6 linked regions of the Homo sapiens genome follow. The protein of the gene in region 1 purifies or fractionates together with the protein of each later gene. This does not show direct contact. Each region holds a gene or a part of one and is shown in the gene's direction. Other genes may lie near its edges. The genes, in order: LRRN2, ATP1A3, ATF6, TRIM13, LARGE2 and DNAJC18.

Region 1 (5,491 bases):
CTTGAGTATGCATAGTTATTGGGAAGCTGGGGTGCTGACATGAGTGCTCTCTCCGGTCGTGCAGTTGGTAAAGGACTCCTAAAATGTCCTCCTTTTCACCATCATCCTGTCTACATTGACATTGGCCCTTAGACTGGAAAGGTGGCTCCAGTGACTCGACAAGGGACTCAAATGCTCAGGCTAAAAGCTTGGAGTCAAGTTTTGACCCCTTTCAATCAGTCAGTCTTACAGTTCTGCCAAGTCTTCTTTACAAAGGCCCATGCATTTACTCTATTCTCACTGCTCCCCTCCTCCTAGATTCCTGCAACAGCTACCTCAATAGTCTCCCATCCTCCTGCCTCTTTCATCCCAAATCACCTGAGGATGGGTCCACAGATAAACTGCTGAGCCTGGCAATTCGGGCCCTTCATCAGCTGCTCCCACCCTGTATACTCAATGTGGCATTGTCGCACTGTGAAAATGAGGTCTCACATTCTGCCTACAGATTTTGGGCTACTGCCTTAAACGATCTGGGCCTCCATCCCCCGGTCTGTTAAAAGGGGATATTAGTCAACTCAGAGTCTAAGATGACAGAGATGAGAAAAGGCTGGCATCTAATAGTAGCTCTATAATTTTCCTCCCTTGCCCCCTACCCTCCAGACAACCCATTCTACTCTGCTTGTCTCCACTTTCCTGCCTTTGCTGGTCCCCATATTCTCTTCCAGTTCAAATCCTATCCCTCCAACTAGGCTCAGTTGGAGACTCAGCTCCTCCGTTAAACCTTTTGTGAATAATGCTAGTCCATTAAGGTGGTTTCTTTTTGTATTTCTATGGCACTTCCATCGTCTTGAAATATTAAAATTGGTTTCATATAGTTCCAACCTGTCACTCTGAGCTCCTTGAGGCCATTATGCTCCGTAGCAGGGGTGGAGAGTGGGAACATGGGGGTGGTTTAGTGGGAACTTAATATGTGCTCATTCAATATATGAAGGTGAGAATCCCCTCTGTGCATACAGAACTCAGACCTTCAAGCCAACTTCACAAAAGCCACCAGGCATGGCAGTCACCACTGGCTGTACCCTTGGAAAAGACAGGGCCAGAAGCTCAAGCACTGGATGACGGCAGGCAGCCCAGGGAAGCCACTCCTCACAGGACTCCACACCTTGGCCTCCACCTCATCCATTCCCCTGTTGTTGGTTCTGCAGGCTCTGGTCCAGACCCATCAGTAGGGTGTGGCCTGCCATGGAGCCGAGTTTGTGATGTCTGTTCTGAGTGGTCCAGGCTGAAGTCCCCACCAAGGCATGGGTGTTGGGCATTGGGCCTTTGCCCTCCTCTAGTGGCAGTCACCCAGCTTTTCTAAGCCACCAGGCAGCAGCCTAGCACCCACCTTTGGCACCTTCTTACTTTCCTCCCCCAGTCTTCATGATGTCCAGCTGGCAGAGTGGGGAACCCTGAAGCCAAACCCCTAACTGGGCCTGCCAGTTCCTGACTGAAATTGACCTCCTTCATTGAGAGCCAGGACGGAATCTTCCAGAATGCTAGAGCTGCACGGCTCAGGATGCAATGCTGGAAAAGCATGACAACTAAAGGGGTCTTCCACTCCATTCTTTAGGGTGAGAGGTGCCTGGGCCCAGTGACAAATTCTCACCCACCCCACTACATTCCTTAGTCCACTGTTAACTTCGGGAGGGTAGCACCATGCAAAGCAAAAATGTGATCTTAGGTGCATGCTGTGACTGTGAGCTGCACCTGTCCTCACAAAGCTGCTGAATTCCCCATTCGTCTCCTGGCCTTTGCAAGAGGGTCCGAGGCAGTATGAGAGAAGCCAACCCTTCTCTTCCCGGACCCAAGGGCTGTGCCCCTTCTCTCAGCCAAGCCTTGTGTCTCTAGGCACAAGGACAGCTCAAGCGTTAGCGTCTGGCCCCACCCAACTCCTTCCTCCCGGGTGTGTGTGCGTTAGGTAGAGGGGGCCTCTGGCCACTCAGGAGTTAAAATGGCAGCGGGACTGGAGGGGGTTGGCGTGGCATGCAGACTGGGAGGAGGCGACCGGAGTGGGCTGGGGAGGTTGGGAGAGCGGCGGAGAAGCGAGTGAGGAGGGCGAGCGCGAAGCCGGGAAGAGGGGCGCGCGTGGAGGGGGTGCCGGGCGCCGCGAGGGCCTGCTCCGGGCACCTGCGAACGCGCGGCGCTCTCAAGGAGCGCCTGGCTCTCGCCCGCCAGCCTCCGGCCGCGACGCGCCCAGGGCGCGGAGAGGGGGTGGGGACGGATTGGGATTCTGCCATCGCCCTCACCGGCTGGGCCCTGGAGCCGCTCCCAGGATAACTCCACGTTGGGGAGGGCGCCCGCCGAGCCTCCCCGGCCTGTGCAGACGGCGCGCGCGGCGGGAGGGCGCGGACCAGCGTCCCCAGCCCGGCCCCGGGCGGAAGGCGAGCGGAGCGCGGCCGCGCGGGCAGCAGACGGCAGACGGTGCCCGGCGCCCACGGGGTGAGTGTGCAGCTTCGGGGCTGACCTGGGCAGCGCCGCCGCCGCCGGGGAATCGTGGACACCGAGGTCGCTGGCGTGGCCGAGGCGTACGCGGCGGGAGCGGCCGGAGCAGCCGCCTCAGGGCTCCTGGCTCCTGCCCCGGCACCGCAGCTCCGCCTGACCCGGGTGGGGGCCAGAGGAGGGCCGGCCGCTGCCTTCCGCCGAGACGCCTGCGGGGGAGCCGGAGACTTGGGAGAGGGAGGCGGCCGAGGGGCAGAGGGACGGAGGGCTGGAGAATGCCCAGAAGCGGCCAGGGAGAGGGCGCCTGGGCCTTCGCCTGGAGAGGCCAGAACCTCCCCCAAACTGTTGCTGGGTAGAGTGGGGCCCTGGAGATGTGGAGGAGCCGAGAGGTGGCAGTGAGGTTAGGGAGGGCGTGACACGGGCGGACTGGCAGGCTGGAAGCGCTCCAGAGCCTGGGGACTTTCTCCTCCTTGGAGCTCGCGAGTCTGTGCGGAGGGACAAGGTGGCCTTGGGTCTGTCTGAAGTATCTGGAACCAGGAGCTAGGCTCCTCCCGGGCCGGCTGGCTGGGGTCCGACCGCAGCCTGGGATGGGACCTTTGGGGTGGGGGATGGGCCGGCCTGGGGCTCAGCCTGGGGACTCGGTCAGGGGGAAGCGGAAACGGAAGGGTGGCTCTGAGCCCACCGCAGGACCCAGGAGACAGGATGGGCTGGCCAGCCACAGGTGGGCCGTCTGTCCTGCTGGCAAAGGGTGGCGCAGGCTCTGGCTGCCCAGCCGGCGAGGAGCCGCGGGGTGAGGGAACTGAGCTCCATCTGGGGCCGAGCGGAGAAGCTAAAGAGGTGCAGGAGACCCGGAACCTGGGGAGGGGCCCCGGGGGTAGCACTGTGCTCCCTACCCTTCCTCCCCCACCCAAACGAACAGGAAGGAAAATGTCAGCTGGGCTTTGTGCTCTGTTCCTCAGGCTGCCGCAGCTCCCATCTGTTGGAGCCAACGCAGCTTCTAACTGGGCGACTGGCAGGGTTGGAGGGGGTGGGCTGGGCACAGCGCTCAGTTGCCAGAGATGGACTGACAGGCCCTCTGCTTGAGAACTCCAGGACCTAGGGTGGTGAGGAGAACAGCCTCCCTAGGTCAGGGCAGTAGAGGTGACTCCCTGCCAGTTTGGTCACTGTCATAGGGGAAGATGTAGGTCTCCCCATGCACCCAGGCCGATGGCAGGCTCCGTGCCCCCCTTTCCCGCCAGTCTAGGATGGGCTCTGGCCCAGCGTTTTGTCCCTGAATAAGAAGGCCAGGAGCTCCTCCCATTGCCCACTGCTTCTTAAAGATCCCTTCAAAAAAGAGCACTGGGCATGGAGGGTAGAGGTGGGCTCTGCACTGGGCACTGGAGCCCCCTTGCCTTTGGGCCCTGTGGCTACCAGAAAAAGCCACATGTGGGTGGCCTGACCCACTTTCCTGGCCAGGTGCTGTTGTGGCGAAACGATGGAAACAGAAGGGCAGAGCTAGGGATCTGAGCCTCCTAGGCCTTCTTCCTTCCCCTGTGCTGACTCAGGCTTCTCCTTCTTGCGGAGGGCTCTCTCTGGTCCTGGGATGGGTCCTCATTATTTGCAAAGCATGGAACTAAAGGCCTCAGTGCCTGGGAGATTGAGGTCTGCCCAGGGTCTGGCACCTAGGAACACCCCCAAATCCACACCCTCTCCCTAATGCAGTCTCCTCCCGGGGAAACACCGAGTGGCAGTAAGATCTCAGAGATCTGCTAATTCCATCCAGGCTAGTACAGCAGGTTCCCTCTCTAATTCAACACAGTTCTTCCTCACTTCCCATCCTATTTTCCCTGTGCCTCCCCTCTTCCTCCTCCCCCTCATCCTCCTCTCCTTCCTTCACTCTTCACTTTCCTCCTCTAACACTCTTCACTTCCCTTTTCCCCCTCACACTGCTCTTCCTCTTCTCTCACCCTCCTCATTCTTCCCCAGATATCTCCCTTTCTTCCCAGGCTCTGTCTCCACTTTGCCCTGCTTCTCCTGTAAACTGCAGCTTAAACCGTAAGCCAGGCGTGCACGCACTCCTGCTCATCCTGCCAGTGGGAGCACATGCACTGTTGACTTTGCTGCATCCCTTTTGCAGAGGAGCCTGGGCTGGTGGGCCTGGCAGCTGCATTTGCCTGGCCCTGGTGTCCCTTGAACCCTGTCATTTACTCACCTCCCCCTTCTACTCCCCACACCCTTATGTCGTTTATTTGAAAGGAAAAGGAAACTCCATGGCTTTTAAAAAAATGTATTCATTCAACAACTGTTTCTTGAGTGCCTACTGTGTGCCTCTCATGATTTTAGAAGCTGAAGATACAGCGGTAAACAAACCTCCATGTCTCAAGCTGACCACACTTGTATCTGGACTTGCCAGCTGATTAGCTCTGTTCCCACCAGGCTCGTTCAAAGACCCACAGCTTGAGGGGGCAGAGGTGAGGAACATGAACAATGCTAGTGAATTATCACACTGAGTGACCTCTAACATGCCAGGTACCGCTTAAGTCATCCTGTCCTTAGGATACTTTTCTGACCTGAAAGGATGGACCAGGTCACATCTCACCATTTATCTGGCAGCCCAGGGCAAGTAGAAGGCTGGTGCTTCAGACAGAGAAGGGGGAAGGAATCAAATTTATTATTGAATACCTATTATGCACCAGTCTATGTGAGGAACATTACAAAAGTTATTCTGTTCAGTCGTGCTGACAACCTTCTAATGTCTGCATTACCATCCCCTGTTTCCTAGCCAAGGAAATTGAGGCCTGGAGAGGAGAAACCACTTGCTCCGGGTCATATAGATCTCCATTTTGAAATCACTTGTATCTGCAGTTGATTTGGCCCTATGATATCTGTGACATCTGGTAACTTGTACACTTATACTAAGGCTTACATTCTAACCTAACTTTTCATGGGGCCTTATCTCCCAGTTAGACTATTAATATGTATAAGGATTTGCTGAACGGTTGTGTGAATAAGCTTTCTTAAGTGATCAAGGAAGGCTTCCTGAAGGAACTGG
Region 2 (4,936 bases), on another chromosome or scaffold:
GCCCCTCCTCCCTCAGACCCAAGGGTCCAGCCCCAGCCCCTCCTCCCTCAGACCCAGGAGTCCAGGCCCTGGCCCCTCCTCCCTCAGACCCAGGATTCCAGGCTCCCAGTCCTTCCTCCCTCAGACCCAGGGGTCCAGACCCCTGCCCCTCCTCCCTCAGACCCAGGGATCCAGGACCCCAGCCTCTCTCAGTATCTGAGAGTCCGGCCCAGCCCTTAGCATTTATGGGGCCCCGAGCATCAGCTCCCAGCCTTCAACTAAGGTTTCTGGGTGGGCAGCTGATTTTCTCCCTCTCTCTCTCCTGACCCCCATCTCACCCCTCTCCTGGCCTCCTGCACAGGACTTGACCCCAGGCCTTTGTAGCTCCACATCTCTCCATCTCTCCATGTCTCTCCATCCTGGGTCTACCCCATCGGGCAAAGCTGAGACCACCCCGGCACTGTAGGGCAGTAGGAAAGATGGTCTCCCCGTCCCCCAAGCCTCTGTGCCTCCGCATCTGAGACGCAGTGCTGCTGCAGGGCTGGCGTGGGGCCAAGCCTCCCTCCCACCCCCTGCACCCCTTCTTGAGGCTCCCAGATCTCCAGGCTGCTGCCCCTCCCTGCACACCCCCACCCTCCGACTCAGCCTCTGGGTCTGGGGGCAGACAGCAGGCAGCTCAGGCCCTCTACAAGGTCACGAGGAGATTAGCGCTGAGCCGCGCTGAGCCTCCGATCCCAGCTTGGCCCTGGGCCTGCGGGACCTGTCAGCGGCCCCTGCAGCACCCAGCCTCGCCCCACCCCTCCCACCAGCCTCGGACACTGCCCTCCCCATCCGCCCAGGCTCCCAAACTGGAACTTCAGGGACTCACACCATGCGCAGTTCAAGCCAGGACTAGGGCTTCTGCCTCTAACTCTCCTGCTCTGTCCTCCAGGAACCTGGCCATGCCCAGCCTCTGTTAAGGACGCTCCATGGGCCCAACACATGGAAGATCCCAGAGAGAGGCAGAGACAGAGATAGAGGAAGGTACCAGAGGGAGACAGTGAGAGAGACAGAGACAGAGAGACATAGACAGAGATAGAGAGGCAGATTCCAGAGACAGAGAGAGGAGATCTCAGAGAGACAGAAATAGAGAATAAGATCCCAGAGAGAAAGTGAGAGAAAGAGACAGAGAGAGAGAGGAAGATCCCAGAGACAGACAGCGAAAGAGAGAGGAAGATCCTACAAAAAGAGACAGATATATATATATATATATATGGACAGAGAGAGAGAGAAAGAGAGAGAGAGATTGAGGAGAGCCCAGAGAGAGACAGTGGGAGAAAGAGAGACAGAGAGGAAAATTCCAGGATGAGGTAGTAAGAGAGAGAAAGAGAATGAGAGATATATGGGGAAGGAGGGGGACGGAAGATTTGAGAGAGACAGAGAGAGGGAGAGAGAGAAAGAGAATGAGAGATATATGGGGAAGGAGGGGGACGGAAGATTTGAGAGAGACAGAGAGAGGGAGAGAGAGAAAGAGAATGAGAGATATATGGGGAAGGAGGGGGACGGAAGATTTGAGAGAGACAGAGAGAGGGAGAGAGAGAGAGAGAAAGAGAAAGAGAGGAGATCTTAGTGATAGTGAGAGAGAAAGAGAGATTCAGAGATAGAGAGGAGATCCCAGAGAGAGAGAGTGGGAGAGAGACAGAGATAGGCAGATCCCAGAGAGAGATATTAGAGAGACAGAGAGAGAGACAGAGAGAGGTTGAAACAGGAAAAGAGACAGGTAGGGAGAGATGTGAGCATCCCAGAGGAGACAGCTTGAGAGATGAAGATAGAGACACAATGACAGAGAGAGACAGACCGAAAGACGGAAAAAGACAGAGACAGAAAGTACTGATCCTTGAGACGCCAACTCAGAGGGAAATAAGAACCCAGAGAGACAGAAACTCAGCCAGACCTGGGGAGACACAGCCAAGAGATGGAGACAGACATCATGCAAGGCAGAGAGACAAAGAACCAGAGATCAGAGAGAGACAAAATCATAGAAAGACACATGCAGAGAGACCCAGAGACTGGGATCAGGATAGAGAATGACAGAGACAACATAAAGAGATCAGAGCGATAGAGAGAGAGAGAGAGCTATCAAGAGAGAGAAACAGCCTTGCAAAGACAGAGATACAGAGATGGAGAGATAAAGAGACAGGAGACAGAGAGATGATGAAACAAAGCAATAAGACCAAGAGCCAAAAACAGACCTGGAGATACACATCAAGGGAGACAGACAGAGGAGAAAGAGATGGAGATACACGTGGAGACATAGAAAAGACAGATACGAGGCCGGGCACGGTGGCTCACGCCTGTAATCCCAGCACTTTGGGAGGCCGAGACGGGCGGATCACGAGGTCAGGAGATTGCGACCATCCTGGCTAACACAGTGAAACCCTGTCTCTACTAAAAATACAAAAAAATGAGCCGGGCGTAGTGGCGGGCGCCTGTAGTCCCAGCTACTCGGGAGGCTGAGGCAGGAGAATGGCGTGAACCTGGGAGGCGGAGCTTGCAGTGAGCTGAGATCATGCCACTGCACTCCAGCCTAGGCGACTAAGCGAGACTCCGTCTCAAAAAAAAAAAAAAAAAAAAGACAGATATGTAGGAAGGTTGGACAGGGCCAGGGAGAGGGAAGAAGAGACAGAAGCAGAGTTAAAATGTCACATAGAGGTGGGGCACGGTGGCTTATTCCTATAATCCCAACAGTTTGGGAGGCTAAAGCAGGAGGATCGCTTGAGTCCAGGAGTTAGAGACCAGCCTGGGCAGTGTAGTGAGACCCCATTTCTAGAAAAAAATTAAAAATTAGCCGGGCGTGGTGGCACACACCTGTAGTCCCAGCTACACAGGAGGCGGAGGCGGGAGGATCACCTGAGCCTCAGAAGTCGAGGCTGCAGTGAGCTGTGATTGCTGCACTCCAGCCTGGGCATCAGAGTGAGACATTGTTTCAAAAAACGAAAACAAAGTCACATAGACACAGAACACAAAAGGGGAGAGCCCCGCAAAGATGGGCACAGAAACAGAGAGAGACTGAAACACAGGCAGAAGCCAGACAGGGACCTTCGGGGACAGAGACTCAGAGACACACAGAACCAGAGACAGGGAAGCTGATTGCAGCAGATGAGACTCACGAGGCCTGAGAGTCACCAGAGGCAGAAGGGAGGTGAAGTCACCCAGAGGCTCCGGGAGACACAGGGAGACCCCGAGAGGCAGACAGAGACCCCCCACCCAGAGATGCAGGGGCACCGGCCAGGAGGATAGCTGGGGCATGGAGGGCCGGTGTCCTCCTGGAACCCCTTCTCGCCCGCAGTCTGGTGGCTCTGACAGCTATCGTATCGCCACCTCGCAGGACAAGAAAGATGACAAGGACTCACCCAAGAAGAACAAGGGCAAGGAGCGCCGGGACCTGGATGACCTCAAGAAGGAGGTGGCTATGGTAAGCCTCGCCCTCTGCCCGCACACCCTCCCAGAGAACCTCGCCAGTTCTTGGCTGGCCTAGGCACTCACCGTCTCCCCCAAACTCCTGTTCCTCAGACAGAGCACAAGATGTCAGTGGAAGAGGTCTGCCGGAAATACAACACAGACTGTGTGCAGGTGTGGCCAGGCTGTGGGCTGGGACCCTGGGAACTAGGGAGGAGGAGCTGGGGGCTAGGACCCCTGGGTCTGAGGGAGGAGGGGCTGTGGCTGGTGTCTTAAGTTCTGGGGGTCTGGTGAAGGCCTGGGGTGCCAGGGTTGCCCAGGGAGGGTTCTGTGTGAGTCCTCTGTCCCTCAGGGTTTGACCCACAGCAAAGCCCAGGAGATCCTGGCCCGGGATGGGCCTAACGCACTCACGCCACCGCCTACCACCCCAGAGTGGGTCAAGTTTTGCCGGCAGCTCTTCGGGGGCTTCTCCATCCTGCTGTGGATCGGGGCTATCCTCTGCTTCCTGGCCTACGGTATCCAGGCGGGCACCGAGGACGACCCCTCTGGTGACAACGTGAGTGCCTGGACCCTGCCCTGTGCAAGGCTCTGCACATTTATTTACGGACACCGCACCCCAACTTCTTCCCATCCCTCTAAGCTTTTCACAGCCCACTCTCCCCCTTTTTCCCATCTAACTCACAATCACCCAGCAAGAGAACCAGATCAAATACAAGGCAAACTGAGGCTCAGAAAAGCCAGGCTACTTGTCCAAGGCCCCACAGCAGGATGTGTGAGCCGGGGCTCTGTCCCAAGGCTGTGTGACCTCAGCGGCCTTGAGAACAGACACCAGCAGGTGGTCATGGCTTGACAGATACCCAGAGTGAGTGTCACATAGAGACCCAGGCACACCCCGCTGCTGATACATCAGGGCCCATCCCCATAACACAGGGACACATTCGAGATGCAGCCTCAGATCCCATGCGCATAACACAGACCACACACCAGCCACACAGAGCTGCTCACCTGGGTAGGCGTGTGTGCACACACACGCATGTGCACGGAGGGTCAACGCAGATGCCACACCAGGATGTGGTTTCAAACATGGCCACCTAATTCAGAAACACAGACACAGACTCAGATATACACTGACAGAGAAACTCACACACACACTGACACGCACACACACACACAGCAATGCAGGCATAACCTGGTGACAGAGAGACATGAGAGTCAGGCACAGAGAGTGTCCTCAGATGTTCAAATCTAAACAGTCTTAGACATAAGCTCTCACAGAGAGGCAGAGCTGGAGACACAGAGACAGAGATCCACACACAGAGAACCAAAGAAGCTGCCTTGTAGAATGTAAAGTCAGGCATGCAGCCAGTCAGACAGACACATGGACAGACAGCCGCATCCCAGACTCAACATGTGCAGGAGGACAGACACACACACAAAACAGATGGACAAGTCGGGCATGGTGGCTCACGCCTGTCATCCCAGCACCTTGGGAGGCCAAGGCAGGAGGGTAACTTGAGAC
Region 3 (4,936 bases), about 43 Mb from region 1:
ATCAGCTGAAGAAAACACTTCAACTGTCCTGACTGGTCTCAATTTAAGTGTTGCCAGACCAATCATATTTCCCTGGTCCTCTCACTGTCCCATTCTGATGATTGCTTTATAAAGTTTCTTCTATCTTCAAACCTCCAACATCTCTCCCATCCTTTGAATCAGAAGAGAACTTCTACAGTCTCCCACTACCTCATTTACCCACCTATCAACATGTTTGCTTTCTCTTTTGTTGGTGAGAATGAGTGGCTTCTTGCTCCTAGCTAGAGCCAGTCCTTCCATATGTGCTTTAGATTCTTCCTGTTTTGTTCAAGAATATTGCTCAAGCTATTCTTCCTCCTGTTTCCTGCATCAGCATTTCCCCTCTCTACTAGATCATCTCTGTCAGTAAATGAACATGTTGTTGTTTCTCCTAGAAGTACTGTTTCTATATCTAGATAGTACTCTAGCTAGAGTTAAAAAAAAAAAAAACAAAACCAACAAACTCAAAACTCTCTTCAGATGTTACTTCACCTCTTGCTGTTACTGCATTTCTCTACTGTATGTTACAGCAGAATTCCTTTTAAAAAATGTCCACGTTCACTGACTCTAGTTTTTTATTTCTCCTTGTCTCTTGAACCCAGTCCAGTCAGGTGCCACCACTCCACTGAAACTCCTGTTTTTTTTTTTTTTTTTTTTTTGAGACAGAGTCTTGCTCTGTTGCCCAGGCTAGAGTGCAATGGCACGATCTTGGCTCACTGTAACCTCCACCTCCTGGATTCAAGCGATTCCCGCCTCAGCTTCCTGAGTAGCTGAGATTACAGGCGCCTGCCACCATGCCCGGCTACTTTTTGTATTTTTTTTTTTTTGAGACGGAGTCTCTCTCTGTTACCCAGGCTGGAGTGCAGTGGCTCACTCGGCTCACTGCAAGCTCCACCTCCCAGGTTCACGCCATTCTTCTGCCTCAGCCTTCCGAGTAGCTGGGACTACAGGCACCTGCTACCACACCTGGCTAAATTTTTTTTTGTATTTTTAGTAGAGACGGGGTTTCACCGTGTTAGCCGGGATGGTCTTGATCTCCTGACCTCATGATCCGCCTGCCCACCTTGGCCTCCCAAAGTGCTGAGATTACAGGCGTCAGCCACTAATTTTTGTATTTTTAGTAGAGATGGGGTTTCACCATGCTGGCCAGGCTGGTCTCAAACTCCCGACCTCATGTGATCCACCCGCCTCGGCCTTCCAAAGTGCTGGGATTACAGGCGTGAGCCATCATGCCTGGCCTGAAACTGCTGTTTTTAAGGGCACTACTGATTTCCACATTGCTAAACCCAGTGACTGTGTCTGATCTTATTAAACTTATAAGGAGTAAATGAATAAATAAATGGGCAAGGTGGAGGTGAGGTGGGAAAGTTTGTTGAGTACACTAAAAATAGTAACTACCATTATTTACTACTGTTGAGGGAAATCTAATAGTGTGGGACTGGTGCAAAGGATATAGAAATAGGCAATAGGTTTTAGGATACTTTGGGGTAACTGATGCTAACAGTTTCTTATGGATTCTTTTGGAATGTTCTATAAATATACGAGTATATTTATCAACCCACCTTCAGTTATTTTTTTAACCACAGAAAAGTCAAAAGATCAGTACACTGATAAACGTGCGTTTTCCTTATCTAGATTTACCAACTGTTAACATCGTGCCACATTCACTTTATATCTTAATATTACCCACACTTTCCTCCTTTTTCACATCTGAAAGTGGGCTGCAGATAATATGAAACTCCTAAACACTTCACCATGTATTTCCTAAGAATGAGGAAATGTTTATTTTTAAAAAGCATCAATTCATTTTAATATGCTTTATACTTCAAAGCTAACATCACAGGGTTCTTTTTCACCTTCTTGCACCATATGCTTGTATTTCTCTTCTGCCGCTATGAGAATCCTGATTCCCAATAACATCCTTTGTTTTTATAGGCTCACTTCAGCAGCTCTGTTGGAAATAAACTGAAAGAGGGGCAAGGGCAGAAGCAGGGAGACGTTTTGGAGGCTGTTATAGCAATCCCCATGAGTTACAATAGTAGCAGTGGAGTAATGAGAAGTAGTTGGATTATGGATATGTACACACACACACACACACACACACACACACATACACACATATATATACATACATTTTAAAATTTTGAAATAGTTTGAAATCTATAGAAAAGTTTTAAGAACAGTGCAAAGAACTCTTGCATGCCTTTTACACAGACTCCTCAGTTGTTAAATTTTACTGCATTTACTCAATTTCTCTCTTTCTCCCTTTCAAGAGAGAGAGATGTGTTGACCCATCACCTTTAAATACTGTAGTGTATACTCTCTATCCTCCTGCCTCCCAAAAGAAGGCCACTTTCCTCTATTACTACCCTATATTTCTTCCAGTCAGGAGATAAACATTGATACAACAGTGTCATCCAATTCAAAGACACCATTCAAAGTTTGCCATCTGTTTCAATAATGATTTGCTTTTCTAGTCTAGGATTTTACTTGCAAACACTCATTGCTTTTACTTATCATGTCTCATCAGTGTCCTTTAATCTGGAACAGTTCTTTAGTCTTTTCCTGTCTCTAATGTCCTTGACAGTCTTAAAGAGTAGAAGTCTTTTATTCGACAAGATGATCCTAAACCACTAAGGGGTTCCTTGGAAAAATGACCAATTCCAGGGCTGGGAAAGTGCAGGGAAAGTGCAAAATAAGCCTGGAAAATCTTGGGCCAGAAATTCTCAGCAAATGAACATGTTAAAAAGAACAAAGGCCCCAATATGAATGAACTCCCCGTGGTCAAATCTGGGAAAATTTGGCATCAGAATAAAATGAGGGTATACATTATAGTGTAAATACTATGCGATGTTCCTATGCCATCATATCATCCTGTGATATAGTCACATGATCACTTGGTCAAGTTGGTATCTTCTAGGTTTCACCACTGTAAAGCCACTGCTTCCCATTTTGTATTTTATTGCTATTTTGGGGGAGATAATCTGACATAACACCAATATCCTTTTCTTATTAAACCTCTAACCACGAGCCCTAGCCTCATTAATAACCCCAATCTATATCAGTTACCACTCTAATGGTTGCCAAATGGTAACTATCTAACTCTATCATTCTGTCTATCATTCTATCATTGTTGATTGACATTGCACTATAAGAACCAACCTACCTACCTACCTTCCTTCCTTCCTTTGTTCCGTGATGAACTCATTGATTCCTTTTTTATTTGGTGGTTGGTAAACCGCTACTCTCATTTTATTCTGATGCTCAGATTTTCCCAGATTTGACCACTGAGAATTCATTCATATTGGGGCCTTTGTTCTTTTTGACATATTCCTGTCATTTGCTGAGAATTTCTGGCACAGCAAGATTTCCAGGCTTATTTTGCACTTTCCCTGCTGCAAGCCCTGGAATTGGTTATTTCTCCAAGGAACCCCTTAGTGGACTTCTGTTTGGTGGAAGATGGTATTTAGTATCCAAGATCTGGTCACCCAGTATTTTCATTGCTACTGGGATGTCATTGCTTCTAGGACCTCTTAGCAGACAGAACTAGGAAATATATATACATGTGTGTATATATATATATATGTGCATGTGTATATATGTATATATGCATAATACAAACATCTGCATATGTGTGTACATATATATATACTTCCACAGCTATCTGTATGTGTTATATTTTAAATGAGTTTATTTACTAATACTTCTAGTTCTAATCCAACATCTTAGGATTCTTTTAGTCTCCCGACTCTTTCCATGCTCTTAAATCCTTTCTCAGACTGTGAGAAATCTGACTCCAATTATTTTAGTAAAAGGCAAAAGATTCATTCGTTCTGAAGAGAAACCAGAGCATTCTAATTATTTTAGATATATTCAACCATTTGCTCAGTCACCTAACATATTTGTTCAGTATGACCACTCTCCTAACCACTCAGCCTGCGTTTTCCATCTGCTACTCCATTCCCCCTCCCACTGGGCTGGGGCATGCTGGCATCTTTGCTGGGCAATAGTCTCTCCCACACCATCCTATTTCCTTGGATATGAGGCATATTGCTGGAGATGACTGTGCACAAAACCCCATCACCTTTGTTGCCCTGCTTCTTTGGAAGCTGACATCTCTGTGTTGGGAGGGGTAGGGAAGAAAAGGAAGGTTGGGAAGGGAAGGAAGAATGGGAGGAAAGGTAGGAAGCCACATTACAGATATATATTTTGAGAACAGAGCTGACAGAATTTTCTGGTAGATTGATTATGGAGAGTGAGGAAGAGAAGTAAATAATTAAGTAATAATGATCCCAAGGTTTTTGGCCTGAGCAACTGGGAAAATCCAATTGTCATTAACTGAGATGAGGACAAAGCAGTAGGAGGTTTGGTGGGGTTGATGAGGAGCTCATTTTGGATATGTTAGGTTTGACATGCCTTTTAAACATCTAAGAGGAGATGTCATACTCACTGCACATGCATCTTGAAGTGTGGGTTGGAGATGTATATTTGGAAATCCTTGGTATATAGATTTTATTTAAAGCCGTGAGCTCAGCTGAGATTACCAAGGAAGTAAGATAGATAGAAACGTTTATGCTGAGCCCAGGGACAAATTTGTGTTAGGGAGATGAGGAAGAACCAGCAAGGTAGGTCAACCACTGAGGTGGGAGGAAAACTGGGTAAGTGTGATATTCTGGAAGTCAAGTGAAGAAAATGCTTCAGTTAAAATGAAAGGATCAACTATGTTAATGCTGTTGATAGGTCAAGTAAGATGAGGACTATGAGTTTACCATTGAATTTAGCAATATGGAAGTCACTGGGGACATTAATAATTATGTGTATGTGGAGCGGGGAGCTTGATTGGAGCAGGTTTAGAACGAATGGGAGGAAAGAAATGAGAGAGCCAGATAGAGAACTCTTTAAAGGAGTTTCAGCCTAT
Region 4 (4,936 bases), on another chromosome or scaffold:
CTCAGCGTGAGGAACCTTTCCCTATTAAATTTTCCGCTCCTAAACCCACTCCTTGTGTGTGTCCATGTCCTGAATTCTTTCTTGGCTCGAGACAACCACGGGTGTATCCCCCAGGCAATGGAGCCATTTCATTATGAGGTAAATACTATAAAAATCATTTTTAAATTTTTTTCCAAGAGATGGGATTCTCAACTGTGTTCCCCAGGCTGGTCTTGAACTGGGCTCAAGTGATCCTCCTGCTTCAGCCTTCAGAGTAGCTGGGACTACAAGTGTGTGGCACCATTCCCAGATATAAAAATCCTAATTTTATGAAGGATAAAACTGGTGCTTGAACACAGGTACTCAAAAGCAGGTTCTGTGCTTTCCCCTTCACTAGAGAGCCTGTTAAACCTAGTTTGTAAAAACTGCAAAATTTTAGAAGGGATTTTAGAGAGCTTATGATTAAACCCCTTCATTTTATGAATAAGAATACTGAGTTCTTGAGTCCCTTTCTAGATATTGCTAAGGTCTAAGAATTAGAAAACTCAGGCTGTGATGCCTAGTTTGCTGTGTACAACTGATGAGTCTCCACTTCTTGAGTGCTGGGGGTGTCTTAGTTTTTTTGACTCCTAAAATTAGGTGTTTAGATGATTTCTAAGATGCTTTTAAGCCCAGTATTTCTATTCCTACCCCATAACTTTTATTACCATTTATTGCCTATACATATATATTGGTAAGACACAGATGCAGACTAATGTTAACTGCCTTAAACTTTTATATTTTAAACTCGGGTAGGTATGGTAACAAGTGTGTCTTATTGTTTTTTACTAAGTCCTATAAAACTATGGTTTTATTTAAGGTTAGGAACTGCATAGAGAGGTGGACCACTCTAATACATCATTGGTTAGAGTTCATAAAGTGATATAAACCCTTTCTAGAGAGAAACCTAGTCATCTTTTCAACAGCCTTAAAAATGTCCTTACTGTTTGACCCAGAAGTACATTTAAAGGAATTGTCTAAGGAAGTAATTAGAGCTGTGGAGCAAGACTTTTCTCTATAAGGTGTTTACCTAAATGTTACAATACCAAAAAAACACAACAACCCACAAACAAAACAACACAGCAACAAGAACAAACCCATAAATGAGCAATAAGAAAGCATATCCACAACATGGACTGTCATGTTTTTCTAGAACATATCATGATGGGGGAAAGGCATGTAATAAAATAAGGGGATAGGATACAAAATTGTATTATGCTACCAGTTCTGTTAAAATGTGTGCACATGCACGGACACATGGGATTGGAATAAAGACACCAAAATAATAGTAGTGGTGATTTCTTGCTGATGTGATTATGGGTGGCTTTTTCTCTCTATTTTCTGAATTTTCTATAATAAAAACTAATTTTATAATTTAAGAAGACACAAAAGCTAGTTGCATGGATAACTTCGGTTTCAGTATGGTGTCAATATTTTATGGTTTTAATTGTGGTAAGAACATTTAACATGAGACCTATCCTCTACACAGATTTCTAAGTGTACAGTACAGTGGTGTTAACTATAGACATGAGCAGATCTCTGAAACTTACTTTTATGTGTCTTTTATAAACTATTTATCATACCTTCTAGAATAACAGCACCTGGCCGGGTGCAGTGGCTCAGGCCTGTAATCGCAGCACTTTGGGAGGCTGAGGTGGGCGGATCACCTGAGGTCAGGAGCTCGAGACCAGCCTGGCCAAAATGGTAAAACCCTGTCTCTACTAAAAATACAAAAAATTAGCTGGGCATGGTGGCAAGTGCCTGTAATACCAGCTACTTGGGAGGCTAAGGCAGGAGAATCACTTGAACCCAGGAGGCGGAGGTTCCAGTGAGCCAAGATCACACCATTGCACTCCAGCCTGGGTGACAAGAGCAAAACTCTGTCCCAAAAAAAAAAAAAAAAAAGGCAGGAAAGAGTCCAGGCTAAACTATGGTATGGAGAAGAGAATGAAGGAAAAGGAAAAAGTTTTTCTTAGTGCTCTGAACTAGCGAGGTAATGAGTGACCTGGTTTATATTTCTGAGAATTTCACCTTAGTCTGACAACCCTTTGTGAACTTTCTGAGTAAGTGAACTTACCAAGCTAGTGAACATTCTGTACTAGCTCTATTTTGCCTTGTCAGGATCTCTGCTAGAAATATCTTGGAAATTTTAACTACTGTTTATTCTAGGATAATGCCAGAAAAGGTTGGTTACTTACTGTCTTATATGGACACATAGGTAACTTTTATATTGTTTGCAAGAGCCACATAACAATTATTTTAGATACTATATGTAATATATTAATTTTCATTTTTAGAGGTATTGAAATCTGATATTTCTTACTTTGTCCTGTTTTGATCATATATATGCCAGAGGTGCTATGTGTAATACATTAATTTTCATTTTTAGAGATTATATCTGAAATCTGATCTCTGTATCTTACTTTGTCCTGTTTTGATCATATAAGTCACCGGGACAGTCTCTAAAAGAATGAAGAGTAATAACACATTGATACAGAGTATTTAAAATAAAAACTTTGTAAATACTTTTCATATACCTTTTAAAATAGCTATACAAATGAGGAGAGAAACTAGTATGTATAAGTGGTTTGTCAGAGGTTACAGACTGAGAGCCAGACAAGTATGTCAGTCTCCTCACAGGTCTGGATTCAGAGACTTCCAGTAATACATTAAAAAAAAAAATTTATGAAAGATGAAACCATAGGCTGGGCATGATGGCTTATGCTTGTAATCCCAGCACTTTGGGAGGCCAAGGCAGGAAGATACTTGTGGCCAGGAGTTTGAGTCCAGCCTGGCCAACATGGCGAAACCCCGTCTCTATTAAAAACATAAAAATGAGCCTGACGTGGTGGCAGGCACCTGTAATCTCAGCTACTTGGGAGGATGAGGCAGGAGAATTGCTTGAACCCAGGAAGAGGAGGCTGCAGTGAGACGAGATCGCACCATTGCACTCCAGCCTGGGTGACAGAGCAAGACTGTCTCAAAAAAACAAAAACAAAAACAAACCATACTACAGCAGATTAAACTTCTTATGAGGCTTATATTTAGCTAATGTTTTCAAAGTTTTACTTTCTAAACTCAATATGGTTTTTTAATAATTGGCTCTTTAGTTTTTCCACCCATTTTATTGTGAAAATGTTCAAACAGAGAAAACTCAAGAAGAATATTAAAGTATTCTTACATCCTCTACCTAGATTTTAATAGTTGTTAATTAGACCCTTACTTAGTTTCAAGAAAACATTTATTAATGGATCTCTCTTTTTTTTTTTTCTTTTTGAGATGGAGTCTCACTCTGTCATCTAGGCTGGAGTGCAGTGGTGCGATCTTGACTCACTGCAACCTCTGCCGCCTGGGTTCAAGTGATTTTCCTGCCTCAGCCTCCCGAGTAGCTGGGATTACAGGTGTCTGCCACTGCTCCCGGCTAATTTTTGTATTTTTAGTAGAGACAGGGTTTCACCATCTTGGCCAGGCTGATCTTGAACTCCTGACCTCATGATCCACCTGGCTCAGCCTTCCAAAGTGCTGGGATTACATGCATGAGCCAATGCACCTGGCCTAATGGATCTCATACTACAGTATAGTAAGGTGCAGTGGCTCATGCCTGTAGTCCCAGCTACTCTGGAGGCTGAGATGGGAGAATATAGTACACTATTTGAAAATAAGATTAACTAGTGTGCTGAGAGGAAATGATTTTTTTTAATGAGCCATTTTATTATAGGAATTATTTCAAAGTAACATTTGTGGCTGTCTCAGTTCAGTAAAGCTTAGCATAATTTAATGTCTATGAAGTGAGTTTCAATGTTTGCTGTCTAGCCACCTGATAGATACTTAGGTACTGTTTTGAAATTCTTGCCTTCAAAGATGCCTCAAAACAGGATGGAAATTTGAGTTAAATCCTTAAGATAAAAGCGTGATATATTTATTGGCTTTTCTTTTTGTTCCCTAATGGGAAATGAAAAAAAACAAAAAACATGGGTAATATTTTGAACAACTTTATATTGCTAACAGCCAGTGGAATTTAAAACCTTAGTAGGAAAGTTTCTTTTACTAATAGGTTTTATAAGGAGAAAATGAACTTTTGTTTCAGAGTGAATGAATGAGTACTTTCTGCAGTATAATCATTTTGGGTTGATCTCTTAAAAGAATTCTAGAAGGAAGAAGTCCAATACATATATATAAACTCTATTATGACACGTTTACTTTGTAAGTATTGGCTTTTCCATTTTTATTATTTTAGTGGTTGTGTTATGGTTCTCATTTATAGAAGCTGTTGTTGCCAGATACTAATTGAGGTAGGATTCATAAAGCACTTTTTGTAATCCTTCTTCTTTGTGGATAGCTTGACAATTTGTTCAAAAAAATAAACTCATAGTGGTGGTATGCAACTTTGTTAAAAATAAAACTGTAAATCAAAAAGTGAATTTCATTGTATGTAAATTTAAAAGTATGTTAGAAAACATCAATATGGCAGGAGAACAAGTTTGACTTTTTTCCGCAACTAGTGTCTACTACCACCTTTCTGGATACTTTAAAAAGTTGTCAGCTTTTAAAATTGTTGGTATAAAACATTTGGGAAGTTTTTAATTGGTATTTGTGCTTCAAAATTTAAGACTTTTCTAAGTATTCAGAAATATTCAAAGGAAGAGATGAATTTTGGAAAACTTGTTTGCCTTTATGTGCTTAATCTGACTTTAAGTTGAAATTTGAACAGTGAATAATAATTTTGTTTACATAAAGTTTTTTGACTTCTATATTAGGAAAAAAACTAGCTTGAGGCCAAGTGCAGTGGCTCTTGCCTGTATAATCAGCACTTTGGGAGGCTGAGTCCCGACTGCTTGAGCTCAGGAGTTTGAGACCAGCCTGGGCAACATGCTGAAACATCATCTATACAAAAAAAGTACAAAAATTAACTGGGAAT
Region 5 (5,377 bases), on another chromosome or scaffold:
TCACTTTTCTGGTGAGAGGCCTGGGAGCCTGCCTGGCCTGCCCAGGATCCCTGCATCCAGCCCTGAGCCCAGGTCCTGTGGCAGCTTCAGACAGCTCCCTTATGCCCTCCCCTCCCAGACACGCAGGCGATCGGTCTTGTGGAGAACCAGAGTGACTGGTACCTGGGCAACCTCTGGAAGAACCACAGGCCCTGGCCTGCCTTGGGCCGGGGATTTAACACAGGTGGGGACAGTGGTGAGGGGAGGCAGGCGGGGTGGTCTGCTGGTCCTTGGGCCCCTGGGGCTGGGTGGGGCAAAGAATGCTAGGAAGTCCCCCAGGAAGAACATTGCTGTGAAAAGAACCCTGGATGAAGAGACAGACAGCAGTTCCAACAGTCCTGTGTGTGCTGGATGACTTTGGCCAGCTCTCGTGCTCCCTCTGAGCCTCAGTTTTCTCATCCATTAAATGGGGGATAATTTTAACAGCCCTGGGATCACCAAGTGTGAGAAGGCCATGGATGTGCTCTGTAAGCTGGACAGCGCCTCCTCTTCACCCCCGAGGATTGACTATTGACAAAAGTAGTCTACGAGCAAGCTGGGTGCAATGGCTCAGGCTTGTAATTCCAGCACTTTGGGAGGCTAAGGTGGGAGAATCGCTTGAGCCCAGGAGTTCGAGAACAGCCTTGGCAACATAGTGAGACCCTTGTCTCTACAAACATTAAAAAATTGACCAGTCGCAGTGGCTCACACCTGTAATCCCAGCACTTTGGGAGGCTGAGGCAGGCAGATTACTTGAGGTCAGGAGTTCGAGACCAACCTGGCCAACATGGTAAAACCCCTTCTACACTAAAAATACAAAAATTAGCCAGGGGTGGTATCACGTACCTGTAATCCCAGCTACTTGGGAGGCTGAGGAGGGAGAATCACTTGAACCCAGGAAGCAGAGGTTGCAGTGAGCCGAGTTCACACCACTGTACTCCAGCCTTGGCAATAGAGTGAGACTCTATCTCATACATAAATAAGTAAATAAATAAAAAATAAGTAAATAAATAAAAAGGATAGGTGTGGTGGCATGCCTGCAGTCCCAGCTACTCGGTGGGGGTTGTGGTGGGGTGCTGAGGTGGGAGGTTTGCTTGAGCCTGGGAAGTCGAGGCTGCAGTGAGTCATGATTGTGCCACTGCACCACTCCAGCCTGGGTGACAAAGCAAGACCCTGTCTCTAAAAAACAAAACAAAACAAAACAAACAACAACAACAAAAAACAAGTAGTCCATGATCATGTCTGAACAGTCAGAAAATACCAATGTCAAAAAACAAAGGACACCTTCATGACCCCCATGTCCCCCAGGAGCTGGTCGTCCCAGGTGGGCATGACAGCATCTCTTCATTGGCAGGTGTGATCCTGCTGCGGCTGGACCGGCTCCGGCAGGCTGGCTGGGAGCAGATGTGGAGGCTGACAGCCAGGCGGGAGCTCCTTAGCCTGCCTGCCACCTCACTGGCTGACCAGGTCTGAGGAAGCCTTGCCGGGTGGGGTGTGGCAGGCTGGGGGCTGGGATGTGATGGGTGTCTCTGCTCAGGACATCTTCAACGCTGTGATCAAGGAGCACCCGGGGCTAGTGCAGCGTCTGCCTTGTGTCTGGAATGTGCAGCTGTCAGATCACACACTGGCCGAGCGCTGCTACTCTGAGGCGTCTGACCTCAAGGTGAGTGGGACAAGAGGCTGTGTGGTGGTGGGGGGCCATGGATGGAGACTTCTGCTCCCTGCTCCCATGGCCCCAACACCCTCCTGGGTCCCAGGTGATCCACTGGAACTCACCAAAGAAGCTTCGGGTGAAGAACAAGCATGTGGAATTCTTCCGCAATTTCTACCTGACCTTCCTGGAGTACGATGGGAACCTGCTGCGGAGAGAGCTCTTTGTGTGCCCCAGCCAGCCCCCACCTGGTGCTGAGCAGGTGAGAAGGAGTCACCTTCCCCTGCCCCTCTCTGCTTTGGTGGGACCCAGCCTTGTCTGGGGGATGTGTTGTTCTGCCCTATCCCCGGTCCTTGTCACCCCTTGCCCCCTCAGTTGCAGCAGGCCCTGGCACAACTGGACGAGGAAGACCCCTGCTTTGAGTTCCGGCAGCAGCAGCTCACTGTGCACCGTGTGCATGTCACTTTCCTGCCCCATGAACCGCCACCCCCCCGGCCTCACGATGTCACCCTTGTGGCCCAGCTGTCCATGGACCGGTGAGGGTGCAGAGGGCAGCCCAGGGGGTATGGCATGGGCTGGGGTTGGACACTTCTGAGAGGAGGTTCCATCTGGCAGCCTGATGCTGTGGTAGTGAGCTACCTGTCCCTCAGGGAGTTCCAGAAGTTGGAGACATTGGATATGGTGGAAAGAGCTTGGGCTCTGGAGTCATTCAGATGCCCGGAGCTGCCCCTCGGTCGCTGTGGGACCATGAGCAAGTCTTCATATCTCTGGCCCCTAGTTTTCTCTCTCAAATGAGAAAGTACCCACCTGGTGGGGGTAGTTGTGAAGATTCAATCAGACTGGCTCTAAAAGTATTTGAAGGGTGCTCAGTAAGTCACTTGAGGAGGTGGCAGCAGCAGCTAACTGGGGAGGTTTGCCAGGCCTCCCTGAGCTCCTGTGCAAGAGGGGCAGAGCTGTGCTGACCTCCCTCTCCCCATAGGCTGCAGATGTTGGAAGCCCTGTGCAGGCACTGGCCTGGCCCCATGAGCCTGGCCTTGTACCTGACAGACGCAGAAGCTCAGCAGTTCCTGCATTTCGTCGAGGCCTCACCAGTGCTTGCTGCCCGGCAGGACGTGGCCTACCATGTGGTGTACCGTGAGGGGCCCCTATACCCCGTCAACCAGCTTCGCAACGTGGCCTTGGCCCAGGCCCTCACGCCTTACGTCTTCCTCAGTGACATTGACTTCCTGCCTGCCTATTCTCTCTACGACTACCTCAGGTGGGCCTGCAGGCAGAGAGGGGAACAATATATGGGGTGGACGTGGACGGGGCATGCGTGGGACCCCAGGCTTCCATGTCCCTGCTCCTTTCTGGGCCTCAGTGGCCTCTGTCAATTGGGGTTTGTATTAGGCTGTTTCTCTGGGCTGTCAACAGGGAGGCCAGGGCCGGCTTCAACAGCAGCTCCACCTGTGGTTGTGCCCACCCGTCGCATCAGGCAAGATGGCCCATGGTGGTCTAGTCCTGTGGCTAATGCCCTGATGAGTGTCACTGGCCCAGTCCTAGATGCCCCGCTCTTCTCCCCTGCTCATGGGTGCTCCTCCTCAGGGCCTCCATTGAGCAGCTGGGGCTGGGCAGCCGGCGCAAGGCAGCACTGGTGGTGCCGGCATTCGAGACCCTGCGCTACCGCTTCAGCTTCCCCCATTCCAAGGTGGAGCTGTTGGCCTTGCTGGATGCGGGCACTCTCTACACCTTCAGGTAGGAGAGGCTACTTCTCTGCCCACTCCACTCACTTGCCCACACTGGCCCCCACTACCCACGAGCTCCTAGCCTCAGCCTGGCTCCCACCCGACCCTGCTGCACAGGTACCACGAGTGGCCCCGAGGCCACGCACCCACAGACTATGCCCGCTGGCGGGAGGCTCAGGCCCCGTACCGTGTGCAATGGGCGGCCAACTATGAACCCTACGTGGTGGTGCCACGAGACTGTCCCCGCTATGATCCTCGCTTTGTGGGCTTCGGCTGGAACAAAGTGGCCCACATTGTGGAGCTGGATGCCCAGGTGAGGAGGGCACCTTGCTGCCTCCACCTTTGACTCGAGCACCTCCAGGTCCAGGGAACTCACGACACCTGCATGGGGGACCACACCACTAGGCAACACTGTTAGAAATGTCCCCCTTCTGTGGAATTAAAATAATCTGCCCTTTGGCCCTTGCTTTAGCTCTCAGGGGCTACAGGGTAAGCCTGTTCTCTGGAGCTGCACCTTCCCCGCAGGCCAGGCAAGCCAGGCAGCCACTGCTCCTCTGCCCCACCCTGCAGGAATATGAGCTCCTGGTGCTGCCCGAGGCCTTCACCATCCATCTGCCCCACGCTCCAAGCCTGGACATCTCCCGCTTCCGCTCCAGCCCCACCTATCGTGACTGCCTCCAGGCCCTCAAGGACGAATTCCACCAGGACTTGTCCCGCCACCATGGGGCTGCTGCCCTCAAATACCTCCCAGCCCTGCAGCAGCCCCAGAGCCCTGCCCGAGGCTGAGGCTGGGCCGGCGCTGCCCCTCATCTTAGCATTGGGCAGACACCAGGGCAACCTGCCCTCCGCCATCCCTGCTATTTAAATTATTTAAGGTCTCTGGGAAGGGCTGGGGCAGAGCATCTGTGGGGTGGGGTCTTCCCCTTGCTGCTATTGTATGGCTGGGGACTGGTCTCTCTCTGCCCCAGCCAGTTTGGGGCTGGTTCCCCCATCTTGAATTGTTTATCCCTTTTTCATAATTAAAGTTTTAAAACATCTTTTTTGTGTTCCTGGTTTGGGGGAGCAAGGGCACTCTGGGGCTAGGGCGTCAGTGCACAAGGGAGGTGCTACATCCAGCTGGGGTCACAGGAGGGCCTGGGCCCTTAAGGGCAAGCACCCCCCCGCCCCCCACCCCCAGACAGCCAGTCAGGGAGGGCAGAGGCTGGGACTGGAATGTGTCCTGCCCACCCTCCCCTGCCCCAAACCCAACACCATGAGGCTGAGAGGCTTTATTTGGCTTTATTTAGTAAAATGTTAAAATAAATAAATACAAATTGATCAGCTGCTCTGTATCCCCCCCCACCCCCTCAAAACAAAAACCAAACAAACAAAAACAAAAACTTTGAAGCACAAAACTCCAAATACAAGTCTACCAAGACTGAAATCACAAAGGGCATGGACAAGAGACAGGGTTGGGGTCTGGCTGGCTCTTCTCTGCTAGGAGCTGGCTGACCTCTGGCCTGCCCGTCCCATCCCGCCTGACTGCAGCTCACCCTGGGCTGAGGACCCACGGACACCGGAGAGAGGTGAGGGTCCAAAGGCTGCTGGGGAAGGGGTAGGGGGGTGGGGTCCTCAGGGAGGAAGGGCCTTGTGGGAGGGGGCGCCAAGTGGAACTGGAGAGCCCTGCTTCCGTTTAGAGGAGGTATTTTTCAGAGTTCCTACCCCGGCTTTCTGGAGGGCAGCCCCAGCTTCCTGCCCCTCACTTTAGCAAGGGGCCAGAAGACTGCCCAGGGCTGCCCACTCCTGTCTTGGAGAGGAGCTGACTCAGAGGACAGTCTAAGTCAGGGTGAGGATGGGAGTCCTGCTTCCTGCCAGGGGTGCCCGGCAGAGGGACAGGGGCGAGGTTCACACAGAGCAAAGTTGCCTCCACTCAACAGAAGCCACGGGATCTGGAGAACCCAGGCCCTGGAAAATGCACCTGGGCCACCATCCATCTCATTACCCT
Region 6 (4,936 bases), on another chromosome or scaffold:
GTGAGGAACAGCTGCTTGGGGTACAAAGGTGAGCATGTGGTGAGATTAAATGAGTGATTTTATGGAAAGTGCTTAGAAGAGTGCCTGGATGTGCTATGTAAGTATTGACTGATGATAATGATGATGATGATGATAATTGAGGCATACTAGCTTCTTGACCTCAGAGGGAAGACTGAATAGAAGTGGAATATTAGGGTATAACATGAACTGACTACCCTGCTTCTACTTTAAGAGAGGCAGCAGAAACCGACTAGACACAACACACATCTACAGGACATTCTTTCAACAACAACAGAACGATTTTCTTCTTAAGGATACATAGAATATTCTCCAGGATAGACCATATCTTAGGTCATAAAACAAGCCTCAATAAATTTAAAAAGATTGAAATCATACAGTGTATGTTCTCTGAAATCAAAAACAAAGGGAAATTTGAGAAATTCACAAATATGTGGAAATTAAACTACAAGCTCCTAATAAGCAAGCAAGTCACAGAATAAATCACTAGGAAAGCTAGAAAATGCTTTGAGATGAGTGAAAATGAAAACACGACGTACTAAAATGTATAGGATGCAGCTAAAACAGTGCTTAGAAGGAAATTTATAGCTCTAAATGCTTATTTTTTTAAAAAAGACTCCAAATCAGTAACCTAATCTACCTTAAGGAACTAGACAGCCTGGACAATACAGTGAAACCCCCTCTCTTCCAAAAAATATATATATACAAAAATTAGCTTGGTATGATGGCACCAACCTGTAGTCCCAGCTACTTGAGAGGCTGAGGCAGGAGGATTGCTTGAACCCAGTAGGTTGAAGCTACAGTGAGTCATAATCGCACAGCAGAGCAAGACCCTGTCTCTCAAAAAAAAAAAAAAAAAAAAAAAAGAAAGAGGGATATCCCTACCAATCCAAATACTATGAACAATTGTGTGCCAACAAATTAGATAACCTAGATAAAATCAGCAAATGCCTAGAAAGACACAAATTACTGAAACTGACCCAAGAAAAATGGAGGCCAGGCATGGTGGGTCACACCTGTAATCCCAGAGCTTTGGGGGTGCTGAGGCAGGAGGATTGCTTGAGACCAGGAGTTTGAGACCAGCCTGGGCAACACAGCAATACATTATCTCTAAAAAAAGAAAAAAAAAATACTTGGGCATGGTGGCACATGCCTGTGGTCCCAGCTACTTTGGAGACTGAAGCAGGAGAATCACTTGAGCCTAGGAATCTGAGGTTACAGTAAGCTATGGTAGTGCCACTGCATTGCAGCTTCGGTGACAGAGACCTTATTTCCAAAAAAGAAAAAGAAAAAAAAAAGGAAAACCCAAGTAGACCTACAACAAATAAGGTGATTTAATTAACAATCAAAAAAATTCTAGCTGGACATGGTGACTCATGCCTGTAATCCCATTACTTTGGGAGGCTGAGGTGGGAGGATCACTTGAGCCCAGGAGTTCAAGACCAGCCTGGCCAACATGGCGAAACTTCATTAGTACAATAAAAAACAAACAAAAAGACCCCACAAAAATTAGCCGAGCATGGTGGTGCACACCTGCAGTTCCAGCTGCTCAGGAGGCTGAGGTAGGAGGATTGATGGAGCCAGGAAGGGCGAGGCTACAGTGAGCACCACTGCACTCTAGTCTGGGTGACAGAGGGAGACCTTGTCTGAAAAAAAAAAAAAAAAAAAAAAAAAAACTTCCAATGAAGAAAAGTCCAGGCCCAGCTGGCTTCATTCTTTGAGACCAGTATTAACTCTGTAACCAAAACCAGACAAAAATATCATAAGAAGTCTAAATTATCAACCAATATCCCTTATGGATATAGATTTTAAAATATTCAATAAAATACTAGTAAAACAAATACAGCAATGTAAAAAGTATTATATATTTTCACCAAGTGGGATTTATCCCAGTATTGCAGGATTGTTTAACACACACAAGTCAATCAATGTAACATACCATGTTAATAGAATAAAGGACAAAAATCACACGATCATTTCAATAGGTACAGAAAAAGCATTTAACAAAATCCAACACTCTTTTTTTTTTGAGACGGATTCTTGCTCTGTCACCCAGGCTGGAGTGCAATGCCACGATCTCGGCTCACTGCAACCCCTGCCTCCCAGGTTCAAGCGATTCTCTGGCCTCAGCTTCCTGAGTAGCTGTGACTACAGACGCGCACCACCATGCCTAGCTAATTTTTGTATTTTTAGTAGAGACGGGGTTTCACCATGTTGGCCAGGATGGTCTCGTGACCTTGTGATCTGCCCGCCTCGGCCTCCCAAAGTGCTGGGATTACAGGTGTGAGCCACTGCGCCCAGCCCCAACACTCTTTCATAATAAAAACACTTAACTAGGAATAGAAGGGAACTTCCTCGACCTGATAAAGTCCATCTACAGAAATCCACAGTTAACATCATACTTAAAGGTGAACAACTAGGTGTTTTCCCACCAAGATCAGGAACAAGACAAGTATGTCTGTTCACTCTTGCCACTCTGTTCAACATTGTACTAGAGGGTCAAGCCAGGGCATTTAAGCAAGAAAAAGAAATAAAAGCCATCCAAATTGGAAAGAAGAGTAAAACTACATCCACAGATGACATGATCTTGTAAATGGAAAATCCTAATGAATACACACACACACACACACACAAATACTGTTAGAACTAATAAACAAGTTGGACAAAGTTACAGGATATAAGATCAATATACAAAAATTATCATTTTTCTATATACTAGCAATGAACAATAAAAAAATGAAATTAAGAAAATATAGTTGAGGCTGGGTGTGGTGGCTCATGCCTGTAATTCAAAACTTTGGGAGGCTGAGATAGGAGGATCTCTTGAAGCTAGGAGTTCAAGACGAGCCTGAGCGACATAGCGAGGCCCTGTCTCTACTAAAAATAAAAATTTAGCCAGGTGTGGTGGCATGCACCCAAAATCCCAGCTACTCAGAAGGCTGAGGTAGGTGGATCCCTTGAGCCCAGGAGTTCGAGGCTGAGGTGAGCTATGATCACCCTACTGCAATCCAGCCTGGGTGACAAAGCAAGACCCTGTCTCTATATACAAATAAATAAATAAATAGTTTTAAAAAAGAGATACAGTTGGCCTTTGAACAACACAGGTTTGAGTGGCATCAGTTTGAACCATGGATTTTTATATGTCAATTTTAAAAGATAAATACATTGGAAAAATTTTTTAGATTTGCAACAATTTGAAAAAGTGGCTCACATCTGTAATCTCAGCACTTTAGGAGGCCAAGGCAGGAAGAATACTTGGGCTCAGAAGTTTGAGACCAGCCTGGGCAACACGGCAAAACTCCGTCTCTACTAAAAATACAAAACTAGTCAGGCGTGGTGGCGCACACCTGTAATCCCAGCTACTTGGGAGGCTGAGGCGGGAGAATTGTTTGAACCCAGAAGGCAGAGGTTGCAGTGAGCTGTGATTGTGCCATTGCACTCCAGCCTGGGCAACAAGAGCGAAACTCTGTCTCAAATAATAATCATCATCATCACCATCTCACAAACCATGGAGCATGGACATACCAAAAAATTAAGAAAATTATATGAATGCATAAAATATATCTAGATTCTAGTCTATTTTATCATTTACTATCATAAAATATACACAAATCTATTATAAAAAGTGAAAATCTATCAAAACATATGCTCACAAACACTTGAGACTACATGGTACCATTTGCATTTGAGAAAAATGTAAACATACAGGTGCAGTATTAATCACACCTGCATAAAATTAACAGTAGTACTGTACTACTGTAATAATTTTGTAGTTAGCTCCTGTTATTTTGCTGAGCCTCAAGTATTGGGAGTATCTGCTTAAAATGCCACATGATGCTAATCATCTCTTTGTGAGCAGTTTGTCTCTTGAGTAAATTATGTATAGCAGTAAAAAGTGATCTCTTGCAGTTCTCCAGTTTTGTTTTTTTTTTTTTTTGAGATGGAGTTTTGCTCTTGTCGCCCAAGCCGGAGTGCAGTGGCACGATCTTGGCTCACTGCAACCTCCACCTCCCAGGTTCAAGCGATTGTCCTGCCTCAGCCTCCCAAGTAGCTGGGATTACAGGCGCCCACCATCATGCCCAGCTAATTTTTGTATTTTTAGTAGAGATGGGGTTTCACCATGTTAGCCAGGCTGGTCTTAAACTCCTGGCCTTGTGATCCACCTGCACTTAATGCCAGCAGGTAAGAAAACATTGCACTTTTTGCAAAATACCTTTTCATCTCATATTGAAAATGAAGCTTTTATATGGGTGCAGGACTGCTATAAGAAAGGCATACAGTCCATGATGTGATTATTACTTATCGCATGCCTGAGCTCAAGGCTTCCACTCACCTCAGTCTCTCAAAGTGCTGGGATTACAGGTGTGAACCCTGCGGCCAGCCCTACCTCATCAACTTTTTAGTGCAGACAAAAGTGCCCTATTCTGGAAAAGAAATGTCACAAAGGACATTGTACTAGTAAGGATGAGAAGTGAGCATCAGGATATAAGGCAGGAAGGGATAGGCTAACTCTGCTATTTTGTGCAAATGCAGTTCAGTTTATGATGGGGGCTGCCATTATATATAAAGTTGCTAACCCCTGAGCCTTGAATGGAAAAGATGAACACCAGCTGCCAGCCTTTTGGTTGTACAGCAAGAAGGCCTGGGCACTGAGAGCCCTTTTTCTGGACTGGCTCCATTGATATTTTCTTCGTGAAGTCAGGAAGTACTTTGCCATTAAGGGACTGCCTTTAAAAAGTTCTTTTGGATTAACTCAGGGTTATGGTGCATGCCTGTAGTCTCAGCTACTTGGGAGGCTGAGGCAGGAGAATTACTTGAGCCCAGGAGTTGGAGGCTGCAGTGAGCTATGATCGTGCCACTGCACTCCAGCCTGGGTGACAGGGACCCTACCCTGTCTCTAAAAAAAAATAAAGTTCTG

The links.
Region 2: the proteins of LRRN2 (region 1) and ATP1A3 purify together in Homo sapiens (affinity purification with mass spectrometry; 2 studies listed by BioGRID and IntAct, with this or other methods). This does not show direct contact.
Region 3: the proteins of LRRN2 (region 1) and ATF6 purify together in Homo sapiens (affinity purification with mass spectrometry; one large-scale study listed by BioGRID and IntAct). This does not show direct contact.
Region 4: the proteins of LRRN2 (region 1) and TRIM13 purify together in Homo sapiens (affinity purification with mass spectrometry; 2 studies listed by BioGRID and IntAct, with this or other methods). This does not show direct contact.
Region 5: the proteins of LRRN2 (region 1) and LARGE2 purify together in Homo sapiens (affinity purification with mass spectrometry; one large-scale study listed by BioGRID and IntAct). This does not show direct contact.
Region 6: the proteins of LRRN2 (region 1) and DNAJC18 purify together in Homo sapiens (affinity purification with mass spectrometry; one large-scale study listed by BioGRID and IntAct). This does not show direct contact.

What each region holds. Positions count from the first base shown.
Region 1 is NC_000001.11:204,682,289-204,687,779, reverse strand, and holds the start of LRRN2 (leucine-rich repeat neuronal protein 2 precursor), read left to right. Parts: upstream 1-2,041; 5' UTR 2,042-2,460; intron 2,461-4,782; exon of another isoform or gene 4,783-4,910; intron 4,911-5,491.
Region 2 is NC_000019.10:41,986,973-41,991,908, reverse strand, and holds part of ATP1A3 (sodium/potassium-transporting ATPase subunit alpha-3), read left to right. Parts: intron 1-3,307; coding exon of another isoform or gene 3,308-3,346; coding exon 3,347-3,433; intron 3,434-3,531; coding exon 3,532-3,591; intron 3,592-3,769; coding exon 3,770-3,973; intron 3,974-4,936. UniProt on the Homo sapiens protein: This is the catalytic component of the active enzyme, which catalyzes the hydrolysis of ATP coupled with the exchange of sodium and potassium ions across the plasma membrane.
Region 3 is NC_000001.11:161,772,309-161,777,244, forward strand, and holds part of ATF6 (cyclic AMP-dependent transcription factor ATF-6 alpha), read left to right. Parts: exon of another isoform or gene 1-307; intron 308-4,936.
Region 4 is NC_000013.11:49,999,387-50,004,322, forward strand, and holds part of TRIM13 (E3 ubiquitin-protein ligase TRIM13), read left to right. Parts: intron 1-1,608; exon of another isoform or gene 1,609-1,719; coding exon of another isoform or gene 1,720-1,722; intron 1,723-4,936. UniProt on the Homo sapiens protein: Endoplasmic reticulum (ER) membrane anchored E3 ligase involved in the retrotranslocation and turnover of membrane and secretory proteins from the ER through a set of processes named ER-associated degradation (ERAD).
Region 5 is NC_000011.10:45,924,667-45,930,043, forward strand, and holds the end of LARGE2 (xylosyl- and glucuronyltransferase LARGE2), read left to right. Parts: coding exon 1-11; intron 12-118; coding exon 119-223; intron 224-1,372; coding exon 1,373-1,485; intron 1,486-1,555; coding exon 1,556-1,681; intron 1,682-1,775; coding exon 1,776-1,931; intron 1,932-2,044; coding exon 2,045-2,205; intron 2,206-2,648; coding exon 2,649-2,927; intron 2,928-3,082; coding exon of another isoform or gene 3,083-3,253; coding exon 3,254-3,403; intron 3,404-3,510; coding exon 3,511-3,706; intron 3,707-3,865; coding exon of another isoform or gene 3,866-3,963; coding exon 3,964-4,179; coding exon of another isoform or gene 4,180-4,258; 3' UTR 4,259-4,430; downstream 4,431-5,377. UniProt on the Homo sapiens protein: Bifunctional glycosyltransferase with both alpha-1,3-xylosyltransferase and beta-1,3-glucuronyltransferase activities involved in the maturation of alpha-dystroglycan (DAG1) by glycosylation leading to DAG1 binding to laminin G-like domain-containing extracellular proteins with high affinity and in a phosphorylated-O-mannosyl trisaccharide dependent manner.
Region 6 is NC_000005.10:139,432,464-139,437,399, reverse strand, and holds part of DNAJC18 (dnaJ homolog subfamily C member 18), read left to right. Parts: coding exon 1-28; intron 29-4,936.